Linked DNA regions of Homo sapiens. The protein of the gene in region 1 interacts with the protein of each later gene in a biochemical or structural test. Each region holds a gene or a part of one and is shown in the gene's direction. Other genes may lie near its edges.

Region 1 (16,833 bases):
GCCCCCTGGACTCGTCCATGTGTTAGGCTCAGTCCGCAGCTCAGAGCGCGGCCCTGTATTTCTGTCTGATGTCTGGGGCATACAGATGTGTGTGACGGACAATGCTCGTGGCATTCGAAGCCTCTTTAACAGACATTAGTGACTAGAGGAAAGAAGTGTGCGAACTCTGCGAAACAAGTATGCGGACTCTGGAAAAGAAGTACATTTCGAAAGTGGGGAGAGGATGGATCTTCGTAGGAGAAATGGAAATTTGCTCCCCACCAGAAGGTTTGCTGGAAATTAAGACGCGGCAATTCTTAATCCAGTTTCCTGCGGTAGGAAGCAGCTGACAAGAGAAGTCCCAGTCCGAGTTCGGCGCGAACTGGACAAGTGTCGTGGGACAAGTGGCGGGAGACCCGGCCGCGTCGCGCCGGGCGCTAGGGACGGACGCATTTCCCTACTTCCAGCAGCTGGTACGAGCCGCCCCCAACTGCGCTGCGCTGCTCTATTCTTTGGGAAACACTTCGCGTGCTTTGTTTCAGACGCCGACCCATCTTTCTTGGTGGGTCTCCAGCTCCACCAATCCCGCCCGCCACTGGGCGGGGTTTCAGGGTCAAGGTGGACCAATTTCCCAGCTTCGCCCCTACACGCGCTCTCGGACCCCTGGGGGTGACTGACAGCAGCCGGGCCCAACCCGCTGCTCCGGAGCATGGCCTCCGCCAGGGGCGTTACGGAGACAAGGCCCCAGGACCAATCGTATTGGCCAGTGGGGGGCGGGGCCTCGTTGCCAGCTCCAGACCGGCGCTATGGGCACTCCTTTTGTCAAATGAGAGACGCAGCAGGGCGGCCCCTGAGCCGCGGTTTAGCCAATGGAGAAGGCGAGATGGGCGGGCTGGGAGTGCCCGGCGGCGGGTCCTCAGCTTCGAGCCGAGGTGCAGTGAGCTGGTGGGGGGACCGCGAGGCGAGCGCGGGAGCCTGGGCGGCGAGCCGGGTGTGAGCTGCCTGAAAATGCACTCGGATGCCGCCGCTGTCAGTGAGTAGCAGAGAGCCAGCCAGCGGGCCGGGGCCGGGCGGCTGCCAAACTCGCCACTCGGCTCCCGCAGTCCCCGCCCCACGCCTCGGGTCCCGAAACGCGCCGGGAGCCCCTGCCTGGGAACCACCCCTTCCCCTCCCGGGGCCGGGGCGGGCGGTGACGCTGCGGGCGGCGTGGGGCGGGGGCGGGCGTGGGGGGAAGGGACCGGCCTGCGGGGAGGGCGGAGGTGAGGGGGGTGGGGACTGGCTCTCTTTCAGTGTTGGGGGAAGGGAGGGCTGGACGTGCGATGAAGGGCCGAGATCGGAGTGTCCGGGGTGCATGGAGGTGGAGGCAGCGTTGGGCTGTAGCGGGCAGGGCCGGGGATGTGGGGGGGTGGCACCGGCGGGGAGAGGGAGGGAGCGAGCGAGCGAGCGGGGCACAAGGGTGAGGATTTCCAAAGGGCTGAGTGGTGCGGGCGGCTCCGTGAGAAAGGCGGGTGAGTGCGAGGGGGGCGCGGGGGCGGGGACAATGGGAAGAAGGGCTGGTTGGCGGGGGGGTGGGGGGGGGGCGGCGAACAATGGGGTGGGGGAATGGGGGCAGCGGCCGAGCGGGGCAGGAGGGCGGGCGACTGGACGAGGGCTGATGTAACGGGAAAGCGAGGTGGTGGGAGGGACTGGGGTGTAATGGTAGTTGGGGAGTCCTGCGGGGCGGGAGGGGCGTTGGAAGGGCGGTGGGTAACGGAGAGTGGTGGGAGTGGAAGATGTTGGGGTAAAGAGATGGGGCAGGTGTGGAAGGGTAGGGCGATTGGGAGGAAGAGGAGAAAAAGGTGGGTAGGATTTGGGGTGGCAGAGTGGGGGCAGGGGTGGAGAATATGAAATGGGGGTGAGGAGCTAGTCGGGGAGGAAGGGGAGGTGGGGCGGAGTTGGGCAGGAGGACTGTCACGTCCAGATTCGGTCCGGAGCCGGGCTAAGGGGGTGTCAGACTGTGCTTAGGGGAGGTACTTCCTCTCCCTGTCGAGGCAGGGTCCCTTGAAGGGGGGAGTCCAAGCTTCGGGGTGCGGAGAGAGGAGGGGGCGGGGCTGAGGTGGAGGAGACGGGGTAAGTGCCCTAAGGTTGGAACTGGCCGTGGTTCCCCCCGGACGGCGGGAAGCGAGGTCAGCGCTGGCGCGGGCTCCGGCAGCGGGACTAGGAGGCGGGGCAGGGGTGCGGGCTGCGGGGTTTCAGCAGCGGGAGCCGGAGGGGTCGGGCCCTGATGGCCGGGTCGGGGGCTTGGCGCCGGGGAGGTGTCGGGGTCCCTGGCAGTCCGTGGGTTTGATAGTCTGTGACGCAGTTGTCTAATTTCTGGCTATCAGGTGTGGGGGTTGGTGCCATGGAACCCGCTTCCTTAGAGGGATGGCCGGGCCCTAGGCCGCGCCCCACGCCCGGGGGGCGCGACTTCTCCCAGGCGTGCTGGGAGGGCGCTTGAGGGGTTTCCTTTAGGGTTTGTCTCCAGTCAACGGGTATGAAGGGGAAAGGCGGTCCCGCCGAATTCTGGGACTTGTAGTCGCGGCCGCGCCCGGCCGCGGTTGGGTTGGGTGCACGTGGGTAACTGTGGAAACGGGTCCCGGCATGCAGCGCGCCCTTGGAGCCTTCCTGCTCGGCCAACTCGTGCTTTATTCCCCGGCCAGCTCCTGCGCGCTCTCGGGAGGCGGTTGAGTTCCCAGGGACGGAGCGACTCCCCAGCCCTTCTCCCTTGGGAGAGGGAGAGCCCACGCCAGGCGCAGCCCTCTTCACGCTTAGGTTCTTGGTCCCCAAGTGAATTTCCCCCTGCATTTTGTGGCCTTACTTGTGGAATAAATGCTTGGTCTTGTACCATCATGCGCACGGGTTGTGGGAAAACATTTAAGAAGCAACACAATGTAAAGCAGCCTTTAGAATGGTGTATTTAATTTTGGCATCCAGTGTGTGTAAGCACTGGGTTCCAGCATTCCCTTGCATAAATATGAGAACACAGTGGAGGTACACGTAACCCTTGTAACGATAATATAAACTATGTGTTGGTATTTCTTGGGGTGTTTGAAAAAATAACTGTCTTGAAATGAGTGATGGAGGTGGGTTAGTGGAATTTAGGGTGGAAATGTGAAGGTGAGCAAAGGTAATATGTGACGTCTTCAATTTTCGAAGAAGCTTGGAAAGCAAATGAGAATAGAAGAAAACTGTAAAAAGTGGAGAACCATAAGACTTTTTTTGTTTGCTTGTTTTATTATTAGCTGCAGGCTGCAATTCCTTCTCTCCTTAATACTAGAAACCTTCCTCTCCATAAGTAGACTCCCTAAACGTCACATCCTTCACCAGTTCCCTTTACTGTTTACAGGGAAGGGACTCCAGAATCTGTAATGTAGAAGGCTAAGATTAATGCAGAGATGATAGATTTTTGTATGTAATATATAAGGTATTATGAAACTACTTGCAACATAGTCATTAGAAGAATATTGTAATTTTTCTGATGATAAAAATATTACCAAGAAGTCCTAAGATTTGTAAACCTTTTGGTGTGGTTACAAACATACTGAACTTGGATACTTGATTGTTTGATGGTTCTTTTCATGATGAGTGAAAAATTGGGCAATGTGTGTGGTGTTCTTGTGGAGATCATTTATATCTATCTGTCATATTTTACTTAATCGTGTGGTGAAATATCCAGGAAACTCTTGGTAATATAAAAATATGTACAAAAATGTGCACTTAACTCTGGAATTTTTTCTTGCAGAGGGTAAAGTGATGAGGTTGAAAAACATGCAAGAGCTATAATTGTCTTCAAAATGGTGTTTTTAAAGAAAATATGAAGCTAGTCATAGCTTTCTCTTTTTCTTTTGTTCTATTATATCCCAAAGGGCAGGTGCTTTTTATACACATATAGCCCACCTCCCTCCATTCCCCAAAGCCCTAGGCTCCTACACACTTTCTGCTCTGGTTTTTAGGTTCCTTTTTGATTTTTGGCGCTTGGGGAGGTCCTTTATTTTCTTGTGAACGTAGCTGTGCATTTAAACAGATGTTTCTTACACGTTATCCAGAATTTTTGACTGTTTTATATTAAGAAGGATTTTTAGGTAATCTTGTCTGTAACATTGCCAGAAAAGAAGGCCTGCCTCATTTTCTCTTAGTGGACTTCACTCTCTTCTTCCTCTGTTGTTAACTCTGTGTACCCCTACTGGCACTTAATCATGTTTTTTCAAACTTTATCATTGTCTCCTTTTCTGTTTTTATGTTAAGTTGCTCCCAGCAGCTCTTCTTGGCTTATTACCTTCTTCCTGGCTACGTTTACATTATTATCTCAATCATCATCTGCTAATTATAACTAATAATTAATAGCTAATAATCCTGCTAACTTAGCAGTATAAAAATCAACCTGTGAGAAACTGACCTCATGATGATCTCTTGTATCAGTTAGGATGCCTTTGCCAATACAATGCTCAAATTAATGGCTTAAATAATAGGGCTTATTATTGTTCGGTAGCAAGAAACCTAGAAGTAGTTGGTTCTAAAGCTGGTGCAGTGGCTTAATGATGTCATTAAGGATCTAGGTTCTGCATCTTTTTCTTCTTCTATTAGTGTTTTAGCTTTTATTCCTCAGGCTCATTTGCCTCATGTTTGCAGTATGGTTGCCGTAGCACCAGACATCATGCCTGGATTGGAAAGCAGGGAAGGAAGGTGCATATTTCCTTATAACTCCCTGTTAACAGAGAAGTCTTTTGCAGAAACTCACTTTGGAGAGTTCCATTTCAGTGTCATTGGATTGAACTGATCTCATGCCACTGCTAGCTGTGAGGAAGCCTGACACAGTGAATGTCTGGCATTTACCAGCATCTCTTGTAAGATATGGCCTTTCGTAGGGTGGAAGAAGGGTGAGAAGAATGCGCTGGGTTGGCAACTTGCAGGTTATATCCCTGAACCAGCTACTTTGGCCAGCTGTCTCTGGCTTGGTCTCAACCTTTACGTTGATTTATTTTCTGCCTTATTCTAAAAGAATTAGGGGTGACTTGCTAAATATAGATAAAACCCTGTCAAGAGAAGAAAAATTTATATATAGACTTGTAAGGTACACAGAAACACTTGCCATATGTTAGAAATATTTGGCACTGAGCTTTTTAATAGTCAAAGAAGAGAACAAAACTAATAAATTTTATTCATTTGGTAAATGAAGCTGCAGTAATTTTAATAACCCACACTGAAATCCTGGACATTTCTTATCCTCTTCTTCCCTGGTCAGTGGCAAGGAGAGATTGCATCTCTTCCCATGCCCAGCCTCTCTTTCCCATACCTATTGCCATGGCCTTATGTCTGAGACAGCCTTTCTTACAGTGTTATAATAACCAGCAATACATTTTTCTTTCTTTTTTGTTTTTTTTTTTTTAGAGGTTGGGTCTTGTTATGTTGCCTAGGCTGGACTCGAACTCTGGGCTTCAGGGGTCCTTCCACCTCAGTCTCTGAGTAGCTGAAGTTATAGATGCACGCCACTGCACCCGGCTCCAGCTGCCCTCAGTGCTGCTGTTTTAGAATTTTTCTTTACTGTGCTCCCTCTCTAGCAGACTCTCCTTTCATGGAATCTCTGAAGCAGTGCTTCCTTCTGTTACTCAGTTTTATGTTACATAACAATAGCTGCTTGTTTACTTTTATTTCCCCTCCCCAATTAGATTATTACCTTTTTGAGATCTGGGACCATGTCTTACCCAGTATCCACTTTAGCATCTAGCATGATGCCTTGCATAGCTACCCAAATATGTATTGAATTGAACTTAAATGATCAACTATTGAATAACTTGTGCATTATCTAGAAAAATTAATTCTTCCTGTTCCTGTTGTCTTTCATTATCTTTAGATTTTTCTTCAAGGAACACAAGCTTTCACCTACTCATTCTTTGCATTTTTTAGACAAAGTCAGTTGTATGCAAACTAATTTAATATTTTTCAAACATGCAGATATCAGTTTTAGAGAATGTGGCGTGGAGAAATTCTCAAGGAAAGAGTAAAATGCTGGTGATGTGCTGAGGGAACAGAAGGAGTGTTTGTGAATGTGCACACGTCCGTTTCTGGTCTCTCGTGTCAGCGTCCTACCTGCACAAGGTTAAGGCAGCATTAACAGGTCTGATGTTAAGGGGCCTAGAGTGTTTGTCCTTTTCCCTTCTTTTTGTTTTATATCCATATTCTGGTCCTAAGGATTTATTTCTTAAGTTAACAATATAGTGAGATCACTGAAAGTCTTTCTTCAGATTTACAGAGTAAAATTTTCTTTGATGAATCTGACATAAATGCTGGTAAATTTTTATAGTTGGTCAACTCGAATTGGTATTAATTCTTCTCATAGCTTGCTTTTTTTCTTTTGAAATTTACATTAGGAGAAGTACCTCTTGAGAAGTATTCTAAGCAGAACATGTATTTTAAAATGTGTTTTAAGAAGGAAAACATTGAAATGCATTCTAAATAGAATTAGGTATTTTAACAATCATTGTGTGACAGTTTTAGATGTAGCAAAGTATCTGCTACTTCAGGTTTGAATTGCTTTTAATCAGAAAATGCTGTTAATGAGTTATGTTCAATCTAGGAAGATAGGCTTGTCATTTGTAACTAATGTACTGAAAAAAACACTAGATATGAAAAAGACCCCTGCCCTCTTCAAATAGCATTACCTGTGGTATGATTTATTTTAGTTCTGCCTTCGAGGATTTTTTTTTCCTTGTGAAATTTTTTGCTGGCCTGTATCAGTAGATTTGCAGAGACGGGGAGTAATCCATTTGTGCTTCTCCCCCTGCCCCACGACCACAATTGTTGGCTTTTAACATATGTCATCTTAGGCCTCCTCCATATTAGTTTATGATTAGTGTCTGTAATGGACACTGTCAGTCCATTGACTCTTGGTCTGATTGGAGAATTCTTACCCTGGCAGGCAGATCTTCTCAGACACACTCGCCTGAGACTGTGAACCTGAGGCTGGAGGCAAGGAAAGAAGAGTAGCCCATGTGGCCATTTTCTGGGGGGATGCACAGTGGTGGCTGCTGTGCTGCTTCTAGAGGCAAGGTCTAGTTGTTGCTGCAATGATGATGCAGTCTGCTGTGTCCCCTTAGGCATTGTTATGGCCAGGGGGAGATTCTGTGAACTGTCTAATAGCCGCCTCCCCTTTTTTTAAATCACTTTTCTGTTTAAATTACCTAGAATTAGTTTCTGATGCTCTCAACTAAGAATTCTGATACTTCAGCATCCAGACTTGTCACTGTCGCTGGTCAGATACGTGGTAGAAGCCCTTGTGAAGAGCAGTGATGTATCTTTTTCATCCTGGCTGCCTGTACATTCTGGTCAGAGGTGACCCAGAGGACTGGAGGAGGACACAGTCGATATCAGCTGTGGGTCGTGGGAGCTGTGTTTGCTGGTGGTCAGGCAGGACTCCCGAACCACACACTAGCCCAGCCCACTGGGTCTCATCATGTGCCACTCTTTACTGCTGCTTTTTCCTAATTCTTTGTCCCCCAAAAGTTGGGATGCCTAGGAGCTAATACATAACTCCTTGTGCATTTTTTTTTTGGCTCTGATGTGGGAATATTAGCTACAGAAATATGTGTGTGTGTGCGTGCGTGTGTGTGTGTGCGTGTTTTAGTGGAATGTTTATTTTGTTTAGCCAAAAATTACATCTGATGTACCAAATACCTTTTTAGTCAACATTATTTAGGTATAATTTCACGTATTATAAAATTATACTCATTTTAAGTGTTGTTGGGTGAATTTACTAAAGATATAGAACATTTCATTACCCCAAAAGTTCCCTTGTGTCCCCTTGTAGTCAGTGCTTCTCCTCCTGCCCCACTACCACAATTGTTGGCTTTTAACATATGTTACCTTAGGCCTCCTCCATATTAGCTGATGATTTGTCACTTTGCTGTTCCTGAGGATATTACAGTATAATAAAGGCATGATAAATCTCTCGTTTTTACTGAACTATGAAATCCAAAGAAAAACTATCAGTGCTGTATAAATTATCAGTCTGATAAATAATACTTTGCCGCACAGAAGTGTCTTGAGTTAGATGACTTGTTCTGGTGAGCGGCTTTCCAGTGGATGGCTTTTCTGGCTTCTCTGTGGCCTGTAGACATGCAGGGCTCGGGTTTTCTCCCTGGATGTGATGATGTCTTTTAATTGTTATCTGGGTCAGGTTGGGAGGCAAGAAAGCCAAAATGGCTGAATTCAAATCCTTGCTCTGTCATCTCCTAGCCAAGGGACTGGAGTAGAGTTACCCAGCTGCTCTGTGTGCGCTTCAGAGCCCTCATGCCTAAAAATTGCCTGTTGAAGGCTGTTCAGTCACCAAGTGTTTATTGGGTATCTACTATGTACCAGGCCCTGCTCTTCATATTTCATGAAGTTTTCCTTTTAGTGTAGGGGAGGGGGCAGATAGTAACAAGTAAATTGTGTAATACGTCAGATGGTGATAGGTTCTGTAGAGAAAAACAGCAGGGAAGGGGTGCATGCAGGCACCCCTGTGTGCGGGCGTGGGGTGGGGTGGAGGGTGTTGTAATTTTAAATAGTGGAGCCAGGAAAGGCTTCACTAAGGAGGTTTTAAGCTAAGCCCTGATGGAGCTGAGGGGCCATTCCAGGCAGAGAGAATACAAATGCAGAAGCTCAGAGTGGGGAGCAGGCCTATATTTGAGGAACAGCAGAGGCTGGGGTGCTTAGAGTTGTGGGGGAGGGCAGAGGGAAGAAAGTAGGAGGCAAAAATCATAAGTGGTCCAAAGGATTAAATGAGATGAAACACGTAAAGTGTTTTTGATGCTTACAATTACTGTGTGATGACAGTCTCCTAGGTAGCCTTTAAAAAATCACTCTTGAGAAGAAAAGTTATAAGAAAGAACAGAACCAAATGAGGCATTCCCTCACTCAGCCATTCAGCAAACATTCAAGGGGATTTTTGCTGCCAGGTGCTGCTGTCACAGGCAGGACTGTGTGGGGGAGACCGGGGCTTCAGGAGCTTCCTTCAGTGAGTTCATTGTGGAGACAGAAGGAATGGATGCATGGGACGATGATGCCTGCTAGGTTAGATGGATGCCCCGGGGGCTTTGAGAACATGTGGGGAATGGTTAGCAGTTGTCATGTGAGTTTTAGCTTTTGAAGTTGGATTATGTGAAGAACAGGATGTGTATGCATGTGCAGGTGGCATATGGGGTCAGGTGGGAGCTTTCCAAGCCCAGCGACAACATGGCATGGTGGGGACAGAGAACTGTGGCAGGAGAGTGGGTGTTTGGTAGGCTAGAGTGGAGGGGAAGGTGAGGTGCAGGGCTAGGCAGGAGCTGGTGGCAGGGGTGGGGTGGGGTCGGTGGGAAGAACTCAAAAGAGGCACCAGGGAGAGTGTATGAGTGGAAAGGAACTGAGAGAAGGAAAGAGAAGTCCCAGGTGGGGCACAGGGAGGGAGGAGGAGCAAAGGGGAATGGGGAGGGACTAACACGAATTCAGTGATGATCTTGGATTTGCTTCAACTGCTTTGCCTGCATTAACTCATTTAATCCTCACAGCAACCCTCAATAAGTTAGGGACTGTTATTATCTCTGTTTCACAGATGAGGACGCTGAGGTGTAGAAAGGTTAACTCCCCTTCTCAAGGTCACACAGCTTATAAGTGGTGAATTGAGATTCTAACTCAAGCATTCTGACTCCATGGTCTTGGTAACCCTCTACTGCCACTGAAATCATTCTTAACATTTTGTTTGTGCTTTTCATTGAACCCTGATTGGAACACTGCATGTATATTGGAATTCTTTTTTTTTCTTTTGTCACTGGCCTATGAATGATGCTGACAGAGCCAGCTGATGGATTATCTCTTGGTTCTTTTCTTCTTGGAATGAGTCCCAGCAGGATCAGGATCTGGGATTTCTGAGTCTCTTCTTTCCCATTCTTCTTCATCCCCTCTCATTTTTGCTGGTTTGCTTACAATGAGAGTAGACATTTAAAAACTGATTTTAAGTGGGAAACTGAAGAATTGTGGCAAAGTATTTTCATACTCTTAACTAATGAAATAGTCATTTTTAGTCTTCTTAGATTTTATTTAAATAGACTTTGTTATTTTTAAATATAGGAGATCTCAACGACATTGCAGCAAAACTAGAAAACAACTACTAACATCATTTTTACATAACATTTTTGAAATTATTTTTATTTTTTTTCCTGTAGGTTAGGGTAAGTTTAATGTCTTGTCCTACATATGCAATTCCCAAAATTAAGCCACAGATCACTTCTTAATTATTAATTAAACAGGAAACGGGATAGTTGTACATTTAAGTCCAATAGCTAGTGAATTAGTAGTTTTAAACACCATCACCTTGTGATCTCTTCTGCCCTGTCTTTTTGTAGTTCTAGGTTCAGTCTGTCTCAGTGTCTTCTACGTTCTAAATAATAATAGGGATGAAAACAATTAACGTTGATTGGCACATAATATGGACCAGCACTGTGCTAAGTGCTTGACATGCACCATCTCATTTAATAATCCCCACAGTAGCTTCGCAAAGAGGTTCTGTTATTTCGGCTTTATGGATGAGGACACGGGCACAGTGAAGTTTGGAAGCATGTACAGGGTCACTCAGTTGGGACTCAGTTGGAGCTCTGACTCCAACCCAGGGCTTTATGTTATCAGAGCTGATTGACATTCTTTAACCAAAATCTGGGCTCATTTAACATTAGTGAGATGGAAAGATTTTTACTGTGAACTACCCAGTGATTCTGTGTGCTTCAGTGGGTAGTACAGATCATTTGTGCTCACCTTCAGTGGGTAGGTGGGGTGAGGAGAATGAAGCTAGGGCCCTTTGTACCATGTCACATTGGGAGTGCAGCCAGACGGGTGTCCTGAAGTGACTGAGTCCCTTGGGATAGCACCAGCAGGCACAGGCAGTGTGGTGGGCGATGGATGGATGCTGCCTCCCTTGGGCGGATGGTTTCTTCTCCCAGCCCCTTTTTTGAGTCCTGCAAGAGGAAGAAAAAGCCAGCAGCAATATGCTTGGATAGCTTTAACTTTGGATCTGTGTTCAGTGAAAATGCTGAGTCACTTTGAATGACCTGTTCCCTTATCAATTTTCTCCTTTGGCTTTTGTGCCTTGTAAATAGCAAATATTTATTGATGAGGAGAATGAAGTTAGTTAACACCTTCCTCACCTGCTACTTTCAATTCTTTTGGTTTTTACCCTGCTTTTCAGCTCTGCAATCTTTTTCCTGGACCTTGGCCTTTTCATCGTGTGCTGATAGGGTATGGTGAATGAGTTAGATTCCTGTCTAGCAGTGCTGAGGTTGTTCCAGGAGTGGATTGGCTACTGGCACGCCAGGGATTGAGTTGAGAGTCAGGGATAGAATCTACTTCTCTGGTTGCATGTTAGAATCACCTGGGCTGCTTGAGAAACACGTGGTGCCCCACACCCATTTTTATTTAATTGATCTGGATTGGGGCCCTGGTATTTGGTGTTTTTCAGTCTTCTTAGGTGATTCCACTGTGTAGCCAATGGTTTCATTTAAATATTAATAGCTTAATTAGGAAGCTGGGTTTATTTTGGGCTGTGGAGATGGGGCTCAAAAGATGCAGCAGCTCCCCCATGGGCACTGCACTGGGCAGATCGTGCAGACCCTTCCTGCTCGCCTATGACATAATAGCCAATTCTTGGTAGTGCTTCCCCTGTGCCACGCACTGTTTGAAGCACAGTGCAGCATTAACTCATTTAATCCACACGATATCCTTATGAGGCAGGCACTGTGATTATCCATTTCGTAGAAAAAGAAATTCCTACTTGTAGCCATGAAGGACATGTAGTATGAAACTGACCCATAAACCTAGGTTTTGGTTTTTCCTAGATTTACAGTATAGAAAACATTTCAGATCTTTGTGTTTTAGTAATTTAGCCTCAAATGTGAATATATTTGTTTTTACAAATGAAACTGAGACCTGTGCCATGTCATGTAGCTAGTGACTATCAGTTAGCATACAGAGTTGTAAATTGGTATTGTAAATCATTTAAAACACTACTTTTTTATGGTTTTGACATAGATTTTACTTTATGGTACATTTTATATTTCAGGTTATTTGAGATGTACCTCATTTTTAAGGGAATCTTTTTTACTTAAAATTGTATTTTGTACTTTTTAAAAACATATGTACTATGATCTTTGAGTGCATATTAGATCTTCACTGACTTGTGATCTGACCTGCCTCTTCACATTCTGGCTACTGTAACCCTCCAGGATACTAAGCAAAACTAATAGCAGCATTTGAAGCATGCTCAAGTCCTGCCATTGTAAAACCCAAACTCCTTCAAACCCACATGCATTTCTAGTCTCCCCTTTAATAGCCAACTTATTGAACAAGTTGTCTTTGCCTGACATAGTCTGTATTTCTTCATCACTCATACAATCCTCAGCCCACTTTGTTCTGGTCTCAGTTCTGTCATTGCAGTCTTTGAGGTCATGGAGTAACCTCCATGTTGCTAAATTCAGTAACTATTTTTAAAGCATTTATTCCCCTATTTATTGGTACCTGCCTTGTGCTAGGTTTGTGCTGTTGTAGGTACAGGTCAAGTGTCCTTTATCTGAAAATCTGAAACCCAAAATGCACCAAAATCTGAAACTTTTTGAGTGCTGACATGACACTTAGAGGAAATGTTCATTGTAGCATTTCAGATTTTTGGATTAGGAATGTTCAGCTGGTGAGTATAATACAAACAACAAAACCTGAAGAAATCTGAAATCTGAAATGCTCTGGTCCCAAGCATTTCTGATAAGGGATACTCCAAAAGATATTGGGATAGAGTAGTGAATAAAGCAAAAGGAAGTCCCTATCCTCATGGAACTTGGGCTCTAGGAAGAGTGACAAAGACATAAATAAATATTTAATATAATGTCAGGATCATGAAAGACCTCCTGTTGTGTGACTCTGCTGATATAAAATGTCTAGAATAGGCAAATCTATAGAGACAGAAAGTAGATTAGTGGTTGCCTAGAGCTGAAGAGGGGTGAAGGGAGAAATGGGGAATGACTGCTAATAAAAAATGTTTTATTATTAGATTGTGGTGATGTTTGCACAACTCTGAATATACTGAAACCATTGAATTTTACACTATAATGAGTGAATTCCATGCTATGTGAATTATATTTCAAAGCTTTTAATATCAGGAAGTGGTAAGTGCTATGAAAAAAATCTAAATCCACTGGGAGATGGAGGTACTGTTTTGCATAAAGAAGTTAGATGAGACATCTCTGATGAGGTGACATTTAAATAGATATTTCAGGAAAGATAGCTGTTGGGCCTGTGAACGTCAAGGGTCATGGAGGCTGAGGGGCACAGTAAATGCAAAGGCCTTGAGGTAGGAATTCACTTGAATATTCACGAATTGTGTGGCTAGAATGGAGTAGGCAAGGATAATGGAATGGGATGACTTAGGTCAGATCACGTAGAGCCTTGTGAGGACTAGAATTTTTTTTCTTTTATGCTGCAATAGCAAATACAACATCTCAGTGATTCAAGTAAAAGGTTGTAATGCATCCTTTGTGGGTTGGAATGGGTCTCTGCTCCACATCGTTGACATTCTCATCCCTAGTCTATCTGAAACCCATGGAAAAGAGGGCATGTGTTTCTAGAAGGAAGGAAACAAGGCAAATCTAAAGAGTGGCTCCCAACCACAGTGCAGCCTTGGCTTTAACAATTTTTGTTTTCTTTTCCCATATCACGTGGTACAATTGACTTTTCAGGAGGCTGAGCCATGTGACCCATGGCTTGAAACACCCTTAAGCATTCCCTGATGAATCCCAGTTAGAGAGGCAGATCCCTATACCTCAGTCGTGTTCTTGTTCTGTTCCAGAGACATTTAGATGAGTGCCAAGGTTAGATGGTAACCTTTAATTTTGTCCAATTTTGTTTTGCTTTTTTGGCAATAACATGGTCACTATTTTGCCCTTTCCTTCTGCCGCCTTTACAGGTTTATTTCATCATTTTCATCGTCACTTGAAAAGCATTTGTTAAGAGCATAATACTGTTTAAAACTTTTATATCTGAGAGAATTGTTCAGCTGTAGTTTAATAATAAAACACTTTGATGATGCTTTAGTGACCAGAAGAGCGAATTGTGCTTAAAAATAGAAAGTTAACACTGGTGTTAAATCTTTTCTGTACCATTATTTCCCTGGGGGAAAAATGGTGAATTGTTTTAGATTCAGCCAGTTTTAAAATTTTTTTCTTTAATATTAAATTACTTTAAGTGTGTGGTTGCTTGTTGACAGCTTTGGTTAGGAAACGTTGCTGCTTTTTTCCTATTACAGAGTGTAAAGTTAGATTGATATTTTTGCTTTTATTGGAAATAATTTAGAATGGAAGAAGTAGCCTTGGATTGGGAGTTAGAAGATAAGAGTTTTGCCCAGCTTGGCCATAGCTAGCTCTCTGACTCCGCTCAAGCTAATAAAATGAGAATTGGACAAAAGAACATGAACCATTGAGTGCCTCACTTGCTCATCTCTCACATGCAGTCCTGTTAGTTTTTCCTTACACTGCAATCACATTTTATATAGAGGTTGGTTCTAAAGTCCCTGTGTAAGGTGAAGATCATTGGTGTTAAAAATACCACTGGAAACACTTGCAGAAGATTCCTCTTTGGAAGCTGTCTCAGAAGAATCCAGCACAGCCTATTCCTTCCTCCAGCATTGGAATAGATCTCTGGCTGTTTATTTGAGCACCAGTTGAAGCATCTGGCCTCGTCTTCAACTTCAGTTTAGGGACCATGTTTTATGAAAATACATCACTTTAAATACTCGACTCATACCGTATTGTGAGATGCACAAAATCTGATTGGCATGTGGAAACTGAGACCAACAGAGTGACTATTCATGTGTCATGTCTCGTGCTCATTAAGTAGAAGGGAGGGTGGGCAGTTAGTGAGACAACTGAAATTTCTTTTCATCTCGCTTCTTCCTTTTTTATTTTTTTTGACCAAATGAGAAGAGTTGAATTTGTGTAAGCTAAATATCTATTTTCTGCAACTCCAGTGTACTCAGAATCTCTCCTCTCCATTTTTACAGCCAGTGTCTAACTTACGGCCCTAATGCTTTCCCACCTCAGTCACTTCTAGTCATCTCCATAAATGGCCACTCTAAATTCAGATCACCCATCATCTTTGCTGCACACTTGTCCTAGAGTGATCTTTTTAAATAACTCTCCTGATCAGAACACCTCCATGGCACCAAGACTCTCAAAGGAGTGCTTCTCAGACTTCCCACCAATGTTTTCCTGTACAGAGTTTGGTGGAATAAGTTGTTTCAGGGTCCTGGGAGCACAGCTTGATGTGGGGATTATGTTTGTTTTCATGTAAGACTGTCATATTATTGCTGATTAGAATTGATGCTGCTGGAATGTGCCATTCCTGTCATTACGTTTGCATGGTCTCTGGTGCCTGTGTTTGAGGTACAGATCCTTAGGAGATTAAATCTAAACGCTCAAGCAGGATTCACAAGTTCTTCATTTTCTGATCTTTGCCTTCCTGTTCAGTCTCCTCTTACCATGACACTTCTCACATTTGAAGATCACTTGAAGTGCCCTGAATGTATTGAATTTAAGCCTTTGGTGCCTTTGTATCTGCGTTTATTCATTTGTTGAATATTTATTGAGCACCTAATATGTGCCAGGTACTCTTCTAGGTATTAATATTACGGGATACAGCAATGGGCAAGATTTAAGTCTTGGCCCTTGTGGAGCTTACATTCTAATGGGAGAGGATGATGACAAATATATAATATAATGTCAGATGGTATTAATGCTGTGAAGAAAAGCAAAGCATGGTAAGATGATAGAGTGAAGATGGGGCTCTGTTGGTCTGGCAAGGTTATGTAAGGAGGTGATTTTTAAGAATTTTATCCTTAATTGACAAATAATTGTATATATTTACGGAGTACAATGTGATGTTTTGATACATGCATAATTGTGGAGTGATCAAATCAGACTAATTAACATATCCATCAAAGGTGATATTAAAATGGAAACCTGATGAAGTATGAGAGCAACCATGTTATTATTAGGGGGAAGAGCGCTCAAGGTAAGGAGAACAGCACGTGCAAAGGCGCTGAGGTGGGAGTGTTCTTGGAGTGTTAATGGAGCAGTAGGAAGCTCACTGTGGCTGAGTAGAATGAACAAGGGGAAGATGAGTAGAAGATGAGATTGGAGAGATTAGCAGATGCAGGGTGTACAAGGCCCTGAGCCCATGATAAGTTTTCTTTTGCTTTGAACAGCTTCCCCTTCCATCTGTAACTATTGGGTGAGGTGGAATTAATTTTAATTTGTTCTACATGCTGACCAGTTGCCCCTCTGTTTACTGAATTATTATGTCTTCTCCATTGAGTTTGAAATGCCATTTAATTATATGTTGTGTATGTGTATTTATACGTATATGTTTATCAGCTCTCTGTCATTGATTTTTCTTCTTGCACACATAGTATAACATTTTAATTACTGTACCTTTATACCAGGTCTTGGCAAACAATGGCCCATGGGGCAAATCCAGCCCTACCACCTGGTTTTTATAAATAAAGCTTTATTGGAAAGCAGCCATACTTACGTATTGTTTATGGCTGCTTTTGAGCTACTATGGCAGTGTAGTTGCAACAGAGACTGTATGGGCCAGAAATCCAGAAATATTTACAATCTGGCCCTTCATACAGAGTTTACCAGGCTCTGCTTTATACTGTGTATTGATATCTGATAGGGCAAGTTCATCCTCATTCTTTTTCAACAATTTCTTGGCAGGCCTAACATGTTTATTTCTCCAGATGAACTTTAGAATCAATCTGCCAAGCTTGCCTGACTTCCTTCTTTT
Region 2 (16,833 bases), on another chromosome or scaffold:
TGTGGAAATATAGTTTTTGTAGATCTTATTGAACATCTGTTGTCAGAGTTGTCCAAAAATGATTCTATGTCAACAACAAGAACCTACATACAATGTATTGCTGCTATTAGTAGGCAAGCTGGTCATAGAATAGGTAAGAAATCTTTAAAAGTTTTACAGTTTTCTTTAATTAAAAAAATTAATGCATGTTTTTAAAGAACCATTATGCTTTTCTTAGGTGAATACCTTGAGAAGATAATTCCTTTGGTGGTAAAATTTTGCAATGTAGATGATGATGAATTAAGAGAGTACTGTATTCAAGCCTTTGAATCATTTGTAAGAAGGTAAGTTTTTAAGATCTCTATTTTTTACAAAAAGTTTTTCCTTAAGAGTAGAATCATAAGGTCTACATTAGGTGTGTGAGGAGAAGCGGCCTTTTGGATTTCAGATATAACAGACAATACAGTATTTGAAACTAATGTCATCTTGCTATTATAAAATGTGGTCATCACATTTATTTTGAAAATTTTCCTTGTCATTGTTAGGACTTTATTTAAAGAATTTTGGAAAGGTATTTATAATTATTTTGGGTTTACTTTAGAAGGGAAGAAATGCCAGTGTAATAATGTAGTCTGTACTGAAAGCCCAGCAGGATAAATTATTCGTCAGAAATAAGTAGTGAATTGCCTTTTCAACAATTTCTTAGGTCACATCCATTTTGCTAGGTCAGTGATTCTCAATTTGGAAACTGATTCTAATATATTTTTTAAAAGCTTAGTAAAAGTTGTGTATTTGTGTACTAGAAGGCAATACAAGATAAGTAACATTATTTTTCCTCTTGACTAATGCAGTAGCATGGTGTCTTGAGACCTTACTGGTTGTTTTCTGCATTTATCCCTTGACACTCCTGGTTTTGAGAAGTGGCTTTTAATCATACCATATTCTGAAAATCAGAAATTGTTAGATTCATTTTTGTTCCTTTAGTTGAGAAACACAAAGTATTCTTTTATTTGCTGGCCCTGTGGGCATTTATATGTTCTGTCCTCTCATTACATCGGTAGAAGACCAAGCCTAGGTGAATATGCACTGGCATTTCCACAAATAATCCTAGTTACTGAAGAGCACATTCATCTGGGTTTGGTTTTCTAATAACATGTTGATTATATACCGATTTCTGTCTATACTGCCATACATTAACCATAACATAGTTAAAATCGGGATTAGGGGAGTTCATCTTAAAATTGATTAAATAAGTACAATTTGAAAGGTAAACCTTTTAAAATAGTAAGTCCATGGGAGAGAAAGAGCAAGAATCATTGGTGCTAGATAGTCTGGGAACTACTGTCCTATGTTATTGCTGGTAATAAAGCAAAATGTGGCAGGTAATGAATCAAGGAGTAAAATGCAGCTCTTCAAGGCAGCTTTTGTTTTTGTCTTTAGATGTCCTAAGGAAGTATATCCTCATGTTTCTACCATTATAAATATTTGTCTTAAATATCTTACCTATGATCCAAATTATAATTACGATGATGAAGATGAAGATGAAAATGCAATGGATGCTGATGGTGGTGATGATGATGATCAAGGTATTGCAAATTAAATAGAATCTTTTGAGTTTTTGTGAAAGACACTTATAGATGGAGATGATTCTTAGTCCAAATTGTACTGTTTGTTTTATTTAGTTATAATAGTGAAAAGGGAAATGATCTCAATATTTGACAACAGCAAATTAAGTTAGAGGGCATCCATGTATTGAACTGTTATGCAACACATTAAAAAATCATGTCTAAAAATCATTCATTAATGCTGTTAATAAGGTGAGTGAAAAGTATGTAGCAAAAATTGCTCACCATAGCCCAATTTTATTTCTTTAAGTATACAGAAAAAAATCTGTATATTTACAACTAGTACTATTACCACTTGTTTTCTCTTGGCTAGGAACTATGTATGATTTTTGGTTTTAAGTACTATTCAAATTTTCTACAAAGCATTTTTGTAAGGAGATAAACCAAGGTTTTAGAAAGAATTGAATCTGTAGATATACATATTTAGGGCAGCTTGGCTTGAAAGAATATTAGTTTGTTTATTCATAGTTCATGAAAAATTCTAAATACTGTTCGAGGCCCCATTTAACATTCATTAATAGCTTACAACATTTCTGAGGCTCCTAAGATTGATGTAATCACACGATGATTTATGATATTTACTCTGGAAAGTAGTAGCAGCACTTCAAGGACATAGGGGTTGCTCATGTCAGTTGTTTCTGTTTGTATTGGAAGAATCATAATAACAAATATTTAAGTTGGTAAATTACTAGGTAAACAGGTTGGTGGATTTTTTGTTATTTTTGAGAATACTTTTTAGTTTGATTCTTTGAATGAATTTACATAACAGCTTTCCTGTCAAGTCAGTAATTTCACCCATCTTTAAAAAACAAGTACCAAAAGAGTTTCTTAACACCATATACTCCTCTAGCAGCTGCTGCCTAGTTTCTCTCCTCCACAACAGAGCTCCTTAAAAGAATGCAGTTCCATTTTCTTTTTTCCATTCTCTCTTGAATCCACTCCTCCAGTGATGGATGAGATTGCAAATGTTTGACTCTGCCTATCGTATTACTCAGTCTCGGCAACATTTCTTTATTTAGCTTCTGGGATACCATTCTAGCCTGGATGTAGTCCTATCGTTGTGATTACTCCAGTCTTCGATGCTGTTTCTTCTTCTTCACCCTGACCACTGTACTTAGAGTATCCCAAGGCTCAGTCCTTGAACTTAACCTGTTATACTGTTGATTTTTTTGTTGATCTCATCTAGTCTCCTGGCTTTAATATCAATATGCTGGCAACCCACATCCTATCTTTAATCCAGATCTCACTTGTGAATCCAGATTCATATGCAACTGCTTAATTAATATTGCTGCTTGGATATCTAAAATATCTTTTCCCTGCCCCTTCCCCATCTCCCACCTAACCTGTTCTTCTTTAGCCTTTTCCATCTCAGAATGGTACCTCTATTCTTCTTAGTTGATCAGGCCAAAAACCTTGCAGTCATACCTGATTCCTTTTTCACACATCCCTCAGCTAGTCTTCCACCTCAGAACTATCTTTCATTTTATTGTTTTTATTTTGTTTATCACACTTAGTAACTTTCTGACATACTGTAATTGATGGTCTCCTACCTATTAGAATATAAGTTTCATGAAGGCTAGATGTTTTAATCTCTTGATTGACTGCTTTATTCCAGTGCCTAGGACAGTACTTGACACACAGGCAATCAATAAATGGGTTGTATTAATGAAGGGAAACTTTAGCTTATATTTTAATATGAATATCTTTTGAAGAAAGCAGTAGCAATGTATATTCCAGGTTTTGAATTTTGTTTTTTTGTGTGCTGTATAACAAACTAGGTACTTCACCTGCTTTATCACTTAGTATGAATTATACCCATTAAATGACTTTTCTACCATGGTGTTTTTGTGATTTATAAAATCAACGTAATTTTAGTGAATAAGGACATTTGTTAATTTTTTATAATCTTGTTTTTAATAAAGCTTATATTTCTGGGAGGCAATTGCCATAGTGTATTGACATGGAAAAAATTTTATGTGCTCTTAACTTGATAGTGTATTTTGGCAGTATCTTTTAACTTTATTTGAATAGATATTGGTAAATAAGCAAACGTCTTGCATTTAGCAGTATTTGGTTGTATTTTCCTGTAATGTGCTAAGGTGAATTTTAAGCTTTTGAGTTGGAAAATTTTATTATTTTGTTGTATACTGTAGAATCTTCTAAGGCCTAGCTGGCTACATTTGACTGTCAAACTAAGCTAATTGGAATAAAAGCCAGTAAAAAGTTACTACTCCGCTCTATTATTTCAAGGCTATGTATAGTCTTATCTAAGAATAAAGAAATTATTGTGAGATAATTTTAGACTATCATGATAACTGCTAATATTTCTGCCACCTTTCTGACTTCATATTACCCAACTAATTAAACCTGATGGTGTTAGAAAGAAAGATTTTCTGGAGATTTCACACACATGTTATCCATCAAGTATAGATAAGTGAGATACAATTCTTAGTGCTTTTGCTTTGAATGTTTAAGGTTTAGCATTAGGGGAAAAAATGGTCCTCTGTTAAGTGTGCAGCATTTTCTTGGTATAATTAAGCAAAAATGGTTTTGTTAAAGTACATTAAGACAAAATTGTGAAAGGTTTAGAATATACATATTTGTTCCTCACAGCTTATCAACAAGTTGAGTGAAAAGCCTTGTAGTCACAAAGCTGATGTCAACCTTCTTTTTATTCCCAGCAAATTAGTTCTACAGTGTTTTGGGATTGGTAACCATTCTTTTTATCACCTACTCTATTACCACAAATCCATTTCATGGTTTGTCTTATAAAGTCCCTGATTGTTTGCTTGATTTTTCCTATGCTGTTAAGTAAGTTCTTTGAATTTTGTTTCAAAGGCTGGGAAATTTATGACTATAAATATTTATATTCTAAAGAAGTTGAATGTGTTAATTGATGATTTTAAAGGGTTAAAATAAGCAGCAGTTCATTACAAAGTAAATGAGAAAATGTTTAACTAATTAAAAATACCATTATGTTTGTTTTTTAAGTTTAATTTATGTGCAGATTTACAGAAATAACAAGCTCTTTGTTCAAGTTCTAGTTCTGTTGAAACCTACCTGTTGCTGTATATGTTACCGGAAAGTTAGATTAACTGATTTGGTTAAGAATATCAATTGATTTTCTGTTTTAAATGATATACTTCTCTTGTCATTAATAGCCTGTTTACATTAAAACTTACCCTTAGGGAGTGATGATGAATACAGTGATGATGATGACATGAGTTGGAAAGTGAGACGTGCAGCTGCGAAGTGCTTGGATGCTGTAGTTAGCACAAGGCATGAAATGCTTCCAGAATTCTACAAGACCGTCTCTCCTGCACTAATATCCAGATTTAAAGAGCGTGAAGAGAATGTAAAGGCAGATGTTTTTCACGCATACCTTTCTCTTTTGAAGCAAACTCGTCCTGTACAAAGTTGGCTATGTGACCCTGATGCAATGGAGCAGGGAGAAACACCTTTAACAATGCTTCAGAGTCAGGTGGGTTTTAAAGTAAAGTTTAGAAAATCATGATAGTAAATGCAATGCTTTTAAAATTGTCTTTATATGGAAAGGTGAGTTCCAGAATATCTATAGAGAAGCAGAAAGTTCTAGGATATGTTTATATAGTTAATGCATGTTCATATTATGTTAGTTGTAAACTATTCTAATTGAATTATTCTTGGCTTTACATGATAAACAATATTTAAATAATTTTAAGATTCAGTAAAGTAGTCTTTATCTTTGATGTTAATAGAGAAGTCTTAGAGCTGTGGAGTCATACTACTTGCGATCACATAACTGACTTCATTTCTAATTTAGGTGTGTGATCTTGGGCAAGTTATTTAGTCATTTTATTAAACCTCACTTTTCTTATTTGTAATAAGAACGTACTTAGAAATATCTACCTGTGGTTGTGAGAGCTGGGTGATCTGTGTAGAGCATTCAGTGTAGTGCCTACTACATATATGCTTGATATATGCCAGTACTTACTAATAAAATACACATTTTTTCACTTGAGGGCATTTGTTTTCTAAGATCCTAAACATTAGAGCTATTATATGCTCCCATTTATTGAATATTTATTACATACCAGGCATTCTCCTATCTTATATGTAATCTCTACAGCAGCCCTATGGGATGCACAAATAGTAGGTCAATTTTTATAGATTACAAAACAGATATTGCCAGGGATTAAACCAGTGGAGAGGACGGGACACACATACTGTATCTATCTTGTTTTTAAGTAGTACAAATAAATACATTTTTGTGGTGAACTTACTCATAAAGGTGAATGTTGAAGATTAATTGTAGAAGGAAATGAGATAAAGTGTATGGAGGACATATGCAAGTGAGTGAGTATATAGAAGTCAGGTATTGCTCAGTAGAGTTGCCAGGAATTCTGACAATGCTATGGAAAGTCAGACATTTTTTTTGTTTTGTCTAGTTCTTAGATCATTGTGTAATTAGGGTATGTGTCCATGTAGTTTGGTTGTTGGGATTTTTCTTGGCTTTTTGTTTTTACTCTGTACTTGCTTTGCTGTTGAGGTATTCTAGAAGCTCCGTTGATAGCTTTGCATCCGTAAGATTTGTTAGTAGAGACCCTGTTTGTTTTACTGACTAGCAAAACATTAGGAAGTTTAGAGCAGATGTCTTTTAATCATACCCCTGCTGCTTGTAGCTACATTTGAAGTGAGGTTGATTCCTTCTAACAGCAAATGGAAAGTAAGAAAAGGACCTGTTCGATGGTTGCTTTTCCATAATTTGTCTTGTTTCCTTTGATTTTTATCTGTGCTGTTGTCATTCAAAATACCATTTATAAATTAACCTCCTAAATTTTTTATTGAAAATATGATTTGATTAATTTCTTTCTTTCTCTTTTTTTTTTTTTTTTGAGATGGAGTCTTGCTCTGTTGCCAGGCTGGAGCGCAGTGGTGCTATCTCGGCTCACTGCAACCTCCGCCTCCTGGGTTCAAGCGATTCTCCTGTCTCAGCCTCCCGAGTAGCTGGGAGTACAGGCATGCACCACCACGCCCAGCTAATTTTTGTATTTTTAATAGAGACAGGGTTTCACCATGTTGGCCAGAATGGTCTCGATTTCTTGACCTCGTGATCTGCCTGCCTCAGCCTCCCAAAGTGCTGGGATTACAGGCGTGAGCCACTGTGCCCAGCCTATTAATTTCTTTTTAGTCATGTATGTTTCACAATTAAAAATTAAGTAGGGAAGACTATTTTGTTGCTCTCTGGAAAGCTAAATGATAGCTTTTCTGTAATTTCTTATCAGTATCAAGCAAATATAGTTACAAGAGAACATATATAATACATGCAACAAACTTGATCTTGTGTTAGCAATAGCAATAGATAGCTGAATTAGGAATTTAACAAAAAAAGATAAACTCTTCCCTTTATCCTCATTCTCCATAATTCATGTTAAGTGTACTGAGGAAATACCAACAGCTGAACCAGCTAATGACTATATGATAATTGCAGGTTCCCAACATTGTTAAAGCTCTTCACAAACAGATGAAAGAAAAAAGTGTGAAGACCCGACAGTGTTGTTTTAACATGTTAACTGAGCTGGTAAATGTATTACCTGGGGCCCTAACTCAACACATTCCTGTACTTGTACCAGGTATGAAAGAAACATAAATCTCTTTTGGGACTTATTGTAGCCTTTTTGTTAGGACTTAGATAAGCTTAAATAATTGTTTCCTTTTAAAGGAATATATGTGACAACTTAATATGCACATAGAGCTAACTTTTTAATCTAACAATCTTGAATACCTGAAGTTAGAAATTTGTAAGTAAAAGGTTAAAAGTCTCACCCTAAAATATTTGGCTGTAATATTTATTGTAGATGGTGAAAATTTCTACTTATAGAAATAATATAATGAAGTGGGAACATTAGCAGTACTATAGGGGTTGATTTTTAATTTTTCTTTCTTAAAAGTCTGCACAGCAATGATTGGATTTTTTGTTGGCTTTTTAGGAATCATTTTCTCACTGAATGATAAATCAAGCTCATCGAATTTGAAGATCGATGCTTTGTCATGTCTATACGTAATCCTCTGTAACCATTCTCCTCAAGTCTTCCATCCTCACGTTCAGGCTTTGGTTCCTCCAGTGGTGGCTTGTGTTGGAGACCCATTTTACAAAATTACATCTGAAGCACTTCTTGTTACTCAACAGCTTGTCAAAGTAATTCGTCCTTTAGATCAGCCTTCCTCGTTTGATGCAACTCCTTATATCAAAGATCTATTTACCTGTACCATTAAGAGATTAAAAGCAGCTGACATTGATCAGGAAGTCAAGGAAAGGGCTATTTCCTGTATGGGACAAATTATTTGCAACCTTGGAGACAATTTGGGTTCTGACTTGCCTAATACACTTCAGATTTTCTTGGAGAGACTAAAGAATGAAATTACCAGGTTAACTACAGTAAAGGCATTGACACTGATTGCTGGGTCACCTTTGAAGATAGATTTGAGGCCTGTTCTGGGAGAAGGGGTTCCTATCCTTGCTTCATTTCTTAGAAAAAACCAGAGAGCTTTGAAACTGGGTACTCTTTCTGCCCTTGATATTCTAATAAAAAACTATAGTGACAGCTTGACAGCTGCCATGATTGATGCAGTTCTAGATGAGCTCCCACCTCTTATCAGCGAAAGTGATATGCATGTTTCACAAATGGCCATCAGTTTTCTTACCACTTTGGCAAAAGTATATCCCTCCTCCCTTTCAAAGATAAGTGGATCCATTCTCAATGAACTTATTGGACTTGTGAGATCACCCTTATTGCAGGGGGGAGCTCTTAGTGCCATGCTAGACTTTTTCCAAGCTCTGGTTGTCACTGGAACAAATAATTTAGGATACATGGATTTGTTGCGCATGCTGACTGGTCCAGTTTACTCTCAGAGCACAGCTCTTACTCATAAGCAGTCTTATTATTCCATTGCCAAATGTGTAGCTGCCCTTACTCGAGCATGCCCTAAAGAGGGACCAGCTGTAGTAGGTCAGTTTATTCAAGATGTCAAGAACTCAAGGTCTACAGATTCCATTCGTCTCTTAGCTCTACTTTCTCTTGGAGAAGTTGGGCATCATATTGACTTAAGTGGACAGTTGGAACTAAAATCTGTAATACTAGAAGCTTTCTCATCTCCTAGTGAAGAAGTCAAATCAGCTGCATCCTATGCATTAGGCAGCATTAGTGTGGGCAACCTTCCTGAATATCTGCCGTTTGTCCTGCAAGAAATAACTAGTCAACCCAAAAGGCAGTATCTTTTACTTCATTCCTTGAAGGAAATTATTAGCTCTGCATCAGTGGTGGGCCTTAAACCATATGTTGAAAACATCTGGGCCTTATTACTAAAGCACTGTGAGTGTGCAGAGGAAGGAACCAGAAATGTTGTTGCTGAATGTCTAGGAAAACTCACTCTAATTGATCCAGAAACTCTCCTTCCACGGCTTAAGGGGTACTTGATATCAGGTAGGTATCTAGATTTTCTTACTTAAAAAGTTTTTTATTGATAGTTGGTTGCCTTAAAAGACACCTAATAAAGAAGTTAAGCCATGTCTATATTTTCTTAAACCTAAAAGCTAAGTATGTGATGAAGAAAAACTGTCTTTCGTAGTATGGAGTGATATTCAAATGACATTTTGTTGTTTTAAAGGATAGTGTGGTAATTAGATAATGGTTAAATCTGTTCTAATTCCTCATGATAACTACATTTTAATGTTACTATATTGTGTTAAAATGTGGAAAAGATGTATCTAATGAATTAACATAATCTGAAGAGCTTGTTGATACTAATTACAATAAGTATAATTGGTGACAGTACTTTTTTCAAATGGAAGATTCTGGAAGAGTTTTCAGATTTACCAGTGTCATCCCCATTAGAACAAGTAAAAGGTAGTAATATTAATAGCAGTAATAGCCATTCATTCTTAGACATTGCTTTCTGTTTTAGTAAAAAATTTGAAGATTTTTAAGCGGTTTTGGATTTAGCTAGTTCTATTTTGTGAGGGCGAGATCGTCCACTGCTGCTTCAAGTCCCTCCTTCCCAGAAGGAATTGTTTCTTTGAAATCTAATGGGATTATATTTTGTGCTCATAAGTAAGTTAATTTTGCTCCTTTGGATTCATGTGTGCAATAAGAAATACCCTTCTTGGCCAAGGAGAATTCTAAGGCATTGAAGACACTGGTGTTATTTGGAGTGGTTTAAAAATGATGTCCGTGAGTTTTAGTGGACTACATACCAATAGACTTGCAATTTATTTTTAACTAGGCTCATCATATGCCCGAAGCTCAGTGGTTACGGCTGTGAAATTTACAATTTCTGACCATCCACAACCTATTGATCCACTGTTAAAGAACTGCATAGGTAAGTGGAAACAAAGATAAACATACTGATTTTTGGACTTTAGAATTCTCAAGAAACTCTTGAACTTAGTAACTAGAAATATCGAGGAATTAAAATGCTTATAAAATAATTGTTTAAAAGAAAATTGATATGATCTTACAACTTTTAACAAATTGCATTTGCCTGTATTGTTTGTAATTATTCCTAGATGATTTTGCACATAAATGAAGTTATAATATACCAGCATGTCTTTAGAGTCAACTACATATTTGATAGCCATATTTTTGGGGTGACCTAAGATAGCTTTAGTGGATAAAGCAAAAAGATACTAGATTTATATGGCCAGTCTGAAGTTTCTCCCTAGATTTAAATGAGTCTTGCTTGAGCTATTAAGGCCTCAAATTTCAATTATTACTTCTAACACCCAAGGAGATCTATGGAGATTTCCATATTTAAGGTCAAAATAACCTAAGAATAAAAAATAAAGGGGGGGAGAGCTAATTCCCAGAAGAACTAAGAGGAGATAACCCAAGAAAAACTAGGGCTTCTCTATTTCTGTGAAGACAAGAATTAGCTTTTGGGATTATTTCTGATTTTATAACCTCCTTGCATTTTGTTTTTATCATTGGTTTTCCTAGAGTTTGATAATAGCCAAAAACACCTCAGAATTTAGTTTGTTGCTTTCTTGAGGACAGGATAATGGAGATAACCATCAGGGAGGATTGAGGGATTTGGCAAAGAAGCTTTGTAGCTTTGTGCCATTCTTCAGTGTGCCAGAAAGAAAAAAAATACAATATAAAATTTGAACTGCATAGAAAGGGATTGCCAATTCAGAATAAGGAAAGCACAGGCACAAATGGGTTCTATTGCTAGGGCCTAGAAATTATTTAAAGTCTATATGAGAAACAACTTATTGGCATTTCCCCCACACATTTTCTGCTTTGATATGTTTATTGAGGACATTGGTATTATGCAAAATAGGACAGAGGAAGAGGCCCATGCCATATCTCTAGAAATATCTTTCCATGTTGACAGCAGTCAACCAGTATGCATTGTTGATACAGTTACTCAGCCAGGTAGTTAGCATTCTAATTGAATTATGATCTAGTTAAGTATTCATGACTATTTGAACATCAGAACCACCTGGGAAACTTTTTAAAAATTGAAATTGCTAGTTCATGACACCATTTTGTCCATAATAGCAATATTTTAGATGCTTTACTGAAAGCGGATATATACTCTATTGTAATTACTCTTCTAATCTACCAGTTTAGTATGCAAATAAAGGGGAGGGGAGATTAGTTTGGTACATTTATATTGTTTTTGAAACCACGCTGTTTCTCAGACTTTTTTTTTTAAATCAGTGCTGGAACTTTCTTGGATATCAACATTGGGTTTCCCAATCTACAGTATCTGAAGTCTCTCTTTCCTCCCATATTTTCAAATTGCAGGTTTTTCAAGTTGGCATTCAAGTCTTTTATCTCTCCTACATTTCCCTGTGTATTCTAAAAGATTGCTGATGATAGAGTTGAGATCATATAATGATGAATAATAGCTACATGTGAATACTTAGTGTGTACTAGACATTGTCTTCAACAATATATGCGCCGTTTATTCTGCTCAGTATAGCTCTAAAAGGTTTATAATCCTCATTTTATTGACTGAGAAACTGAGGTTCTTGCCTAAAGTAACTTGCACAAAATCATACATTTAACAAGTAAAATGATTTGAACCACCAACCATGTGACTCCAAAGATCTTTGCATTATACTTTCTTGCCCACATTTGCAAGAGTAAGCAGACTTTTAAAATACCTAGATGGCTTCTCTGGCTTTTGTCCTATGTTAGCTTTCAATTTTCTCCTTTTATATTATTTTCCTGTGAATTCGTGTATTTCTTACTGAAGACAGAAATAAAGTAGGGCTTTTGGAGGCACGTTTCTCTTTCATTTGATTAATTGTATATCTGCTAATAGTACTCCATCTTTATTAAGCAGTGGGTCTGTCTTCACTTCATTTTTTTATTCTTATTTTGAACTTAGTTTAAAAATATTTTTGTTGCTGCTTTTAGTGAACTACAAGGAGAATCAAGCATGTGATTAGTCTTTTTAGCTCTGTCTCTGTCATATCTTATATCTATAGAAGTGATATTGAGGAACTTTATGGACTCTTCTTCCATACCCTCTGCATTATAAGTGCTGAGAGTGGATTATCAATTGAAAATATATTCACCTTCAGAAATGATAGTTGCGTTGCTGCTGAAAGAAACGTTATGGTTCACTTAGTGTTTCATCAGGTTCTTCCCTGACCGTCACTGAAGAAATAACAATGACACCAGCAAAAATAAATTATATCAACTTAGAGAAAATATAATGTATATTGTATTTTAAGTTTATCATGTCTGTCTGTTGCTTTTCTTGTAATATTTCAGGTGATTTCCTAAAAACTTTGGAAGACCCAGATTTGAATGTGAGAAGAGTAGCCTTGGTCACATTTAATTCAGCAGCACATAACAAGCCATCATTAATAAGGGATCTATTGGATACTGTTCTTCCACATCTTTACAATGAAACAAAAGTTAGAAAGGAGCTTATAAGAGAGGTAAGTTAGATCACACTGTTTATTTGAGCTTGTCTTTGACTTAAGTATTGTATATCCACACGTTCTTTTTTGCTTTAACAGGTAGAAATGGGTCCATTTAAACATACGGTTGATGATGGTCTGGATATTAGAAAGGCAGCATTTGAGTGTATGTACACACTTCTAGACAGTTGTCTTGATAGACTTGATATCTTTGAATTTCTAAATCATGTTGAAGATGGTTTGAAGGACCATTATGATATTAAGGTAAGATGTTTGTGCCTATTTATACAATGTTTTAGAAGAAGACTTTGCTAGAGCAACTTTCACCCTTGTAATTTACTCATGTGTCTGAGAAAAATCAGGTTGTCTGTGAAGATTTTGATAAGCATATTGTAAACTATAAAGTGCAAAAGTAATAGGCAGTGTAACACCAGTTGACGTGTAAGAAAGATCCAGAGCCCTTTTTATTGGAGGAGGAAGTGGCAGTGGATGCAAAATGCTGTGTGCCCACTTGCTTAGTGAATAGTCCCTAGATCCTTTCCCTCAAAAAAGTCCCGACAGATTTTGCTGTTTAAAGTATAAATCTGTAACTTTTTGGCCTGTCTTAACATTGGACCATAGTTGCTACCCATGGAGGGTTTTCTTAGCATTGTCTTGATTAAGTCTCCTGAGCTACCTTTGGGGCTAGTCTGAATTGTAACTGTATCATTTACCTGAATGAGGAATTTTTGTTTTTCAATATAATATACTGTGTTTAATATCAAGAATTTTGTTATAGGACATGGAACTTTTCAGATATACAAAACAATCTGTAGAAGCTACTTGAGAGAAATCATACTGCGTCTTATGTTTGGATAATGAATTTTGCATATAAGTGTTCTTTGTTTTCCTGTGTGTTCGTCTCCATTTAAAATGTGAACAGTAAAAGGGTGATTTGAAAAATGAAAAATATATGCATTGTGTCTTTTTCATCTACTCTTCCATTTAGGGCTTTTGGCCAAGCAGGACAAAAGTGGTAACTCAGCAGTAATTGAGCCATACTACCCGAACTCCTACTCTTAGGTTTCCATGTGTGGTAGTGACCTGAGCCTCTCAAAGTTCAATGAAGAGGGCCTCCCCACCAAGAAGTAAAAGGATGTGCTTGTTTAATTCTATGAGTTTATAGTCCAAGAGAAAAAGGTTTATGGGTTATCAGGTTTTACATGGATTAATCTGAATAACTGGTCAACTCTGTTATGATAGTGGAAACTTATTATGAAATTGTGTTCCAGTTCAGTAATTTTCTAGTTCTATGATTCTCAATTCTGGTGCACATGAGCTTTAAAAAATAAAAATAAAAAAAATAATGTGTGCCATATTCTGACAGGTTCAGTAAAACTCTCTGGGGATGGGGCTTGAAGAATGGGTATGTTTCTAAAGCTCTCTGGATGATTCTAATGTGCAACCAAGATTGAAAACCACTTTTCTAGTTCTTATATCTGTTTGAGACAAATCTGTCTGATTCTGATTGGCAGATTACATTAAAAGGAAGGTTTACTTTGCATGCTAGTTATTTTCCTTTAAAGGATTTGTCAGAATTTAGTATTTTGTTTTTAGAAAATGATGTCAAATCTAAATTCTGTCTTTTTTATTCCTAATAGATGCTGACATTTTTAATGTTGGTGAGACTGTCTACCCTTTGTCCAAGTGCAGTACTGCAGAGGTTGGACCGACTTGTTGAGCCATTACGTGCAACATGTACAACTAAGGTAAGAAATGATAAGTATCAACCTAGGTCAGACTTGGTGTATTGGGGATTCCTAGCCAATTCTTTTCTCTAGCTTTCCAAATATAACTATTCCAGTGCTCTGTGTAGCAGTTGGTTTAAAAAGTTAACCTATCGAATACTGATATTTTATAAAACTTAGCCCTGTTAACGGCTATTCTTAAAAGTTTTTGTTTATTGCTATATCAATATGTTAACATTTTGAAGTACTGATACATATTTGAAGTACTGATATGGGATAAAATGTGATCAGGCCACAAAAGAGGAAATTTTTAATTCTGGTTGGAAGGGGAGTCAGAAGGTTTCATATTAGGTTGACAACATTTGCAATGAACCTCGAAAAATCAAGATTTTTTTTTTTTTAGACCAAGAAGATGAAACGGGCTTTGAATAAAGGCCTGGAGATGTCATCATATGGTGTGTTTGAAAAAGTGAATAATAGAGTATAGCAAAGAATAGGGTAGCTAGAGGAGTACTTTCTTGATGGGGGCTAAAGTGTGAGACTTGCTAAGCAGATAGTTGAAACAAAGAGTGTCCTACTCTCTTTGTTACAATCATTTGGGTCTAGATTTTCTGTTTTTATAATGGGGCTTTGTGTAAAATATTCCCTTAAAAGAAAAGGAGACAGCTACTTTAAAAATAAGTTTAAAAACAGTTGTTCTTAGAATGTAATATGCCTTATGGACCTACGAGAGTAGCTTTTAGCAGGAAGATCTTATGTGCTTAAATTTTGTTCATGTAAGAGCTGTCTTTTATAGCATGTAATCTAAGTTTACTCCATCTTACAGGTAAAGGCAAACTCAGTAAAGCAGGAGTTTGAAAAACAAGATGAATTAAAGCGATCTGCCATGAGAGCAGTAGCAGCACTGCTAACCATTCCAGAAGCAGAGAAGAGTCCACTGATGAGTGAATTCCAGTCACAGATCAGTTCTAACCCTGAGCTGGCGGCTATCTTTGAAAGTATCCAGAAAGATTCATCATCTACTAACTTGGAATCAATGGACACTAGTTAGATGTTTGTTCACCATGGGGACCATTACATATGACCATACAATGCACTGAATTGACAGGTTAATCATAAGACATGGAAAGAGAAGTGTCTAAAAGCTTCAAAATGTTCCACTTTTTTTTCCTTCATGGAGACTGTTTGTTTGGCTTTCTTCCATTGTTGTTTTTGTAGCATTTATTTCAGAAATGTGTATTTCCATAATCCAGAGGTTGTAAAACCACTAGTGTTTTAGTGGTTACAGCAACATTTGAAATGGAAACTAAAAGTTAGGATTTTATGGAGTATGGAGATAGGGTCCAGTATCTATTTACCCTGTAATGTTTAGGATTAAAATGTTAAAATTTTGTGACCATGAATTTCTTTCTTTTATAAATTTTCTCATTTAAAAATCAAAAATCTTGCAAAACAAAAACCATGTTTCTTTTTCTTGTATAACTTTTTGTTTTCAGCAACATAAATTGATTTTTAGCTGGCAGACAAGAATATCCATATAAGATTTGTTAACCATTTCAGAGAGTTTGGCAATTTTTAAAAGATAATAAGGTATCATTTTTAAGTATGAAAATTAACAATATCCCTGTTGCGCACACTAATTTTGCATGAGTAAGTTTACAAATATGTATCGTCTGTAAAGCAGCATGTGCAGATTATTCATAATATAGAAGTTAAAATAAGTATTAGTGCAATTTTCAGATATTTATTTTTGCACAGAAAACACATTATCTGGAGAGAAAGAAAGGAGAATTTTTGAGACTTGGGTTTTCTTAATGCCAGTGTGAATTTGCAGATGTTTTCAGAAAATCAAGTCACAGTAACAATTTGCCACTTTTTTCTATTATAAATCTTCTTACTTAAATTTTGAATATTTAGTTTTTCTCAGTTACCCATTTGTGTGTGTGTGATTCCACTTAGAAATTCTTAAAACCAGATTTTTCTTTCATTCCGTTTGGATGTCTACATTCCTTATCAAAGGATATAAATACTGTGTATGCTTTTGAATTTTATTTTTAGGAAAATTCTGAAGCCAGCTATCACAGGTTTGTTAGCTAATAATAGTATTTTCTTTTAGTTGAGTTAGGTTTTTCCCCATCTCCTGTAGAGCGAATTTACATATTGTATTGGGTAAGTGTTCACTACTTTTCCTGATTAAGGGATCTGTGCTGGGGAACAAAGCTTTTGCAGTACCTTATATTGTAGTTAAAATTTTATTTAACATATCCTTCAGTGAGCTCATTTCACACTGTAGCCTCTTCCTTAAAATTTGTGGTGCTCCTGTAACAGTAAGAACTAATTCTGAAATAAAAGACATCTCCTAATGCTGTGCAAACATAGTTTACATGTATTGAAGGAGGCAGTTGTTAAATTGAGTGACCAATTTAAGCAATCAGATATTTGAAAACTGCACCCTTTAGTTTTGAAACTGTGAATTAGAAACACTTTTCCTGCTGTATTACTACCTGCTTTAACATCCAAATATACAGTGATTTTAAATGATAACATACTGTGGTTATTAGATTAACAGCTTGATTTTGAATGT

Evidence for each region.
Region 2: the proteins of DCUN1D4 (region 1) and CAND1 form a complex in vitro, tested with the Homo sapiens proteins (one study listed by BioGRID).

What each region holds. Positions count from the first base shown.
Region 1 is NC_000004.12:51,842,256-51,859,088, forward strand, and holds the start of DCUN1D4 (DCN1-like protein 4), read left to right. Parts: upstream 1-897; 5' UTR 898-987; coding exon 988-1,012; intron 1,013-1,316; exon of another isoform or gene 1,317-1,330; coding exon of another isoform or gene 1,331-1,487; intron 1,488-1,745; exon of another isoform or gene 1,746-1,817; intron 1,818-1,988; exon of another isoform or gene 1,989-2,088; intron 2,089-2,116; exon of another isoform or gene 2,117-2,144; intron 2,145-5,949; exon of another isoform or gene 5,950-6,112; intron 6,113-6,166; exon of another isoform or gene 6,167-16,833. UniProt on the Homo sapiens protein: Contributes to the neddylation of all cullins by transferring NEDD8 from N-terminally acetylated NEDD8-conjugating E2s enzyme to different cullin C-terminal domain-RBX complexes which are necessary for the activation of cullin-RING E3 ubiquitin ligases (CRLs).
Region 2 is NC_000012.12:67,297,531-67,314,363, forward strand, and holds part of CAND1 (cullin-associated NEDD8-dissociated protein 1), read left to right. Parts: coding exon 1-133; intron 134-217; coding exon 218-323; intron 324-1,419; coding exon 1,420-1,565; intron 1,566-4,792; coding exon 4,793-5,085; intron 5,086-7,074; coding exon 7,075-7,216; intron 7,217-7,573; coding exon 7,574-9,067; intron 9,068-9,866; coding exon 9,867-9,962; intron 9,963-12,370; coding exon 12,371-12,540; intron 12,541-12,621; coding exon 12,622-12,786; intron 12,787-14,162; coding exon 14,163-14,270; intron 14,271-15,075; coding exon 15,076-15,300; 3' UTR 15,301-16,833. UniProt on the Homo sapiens protein: Key assembly factor of SCF (SKP1-CUL1-F-box protein) E3 ubiquitin ligase complexes that promotes the exchange of the substrate-recognition F-box subunit in SCF complexes, thereby playing a key role in the cellular repertoire of SCF complexes.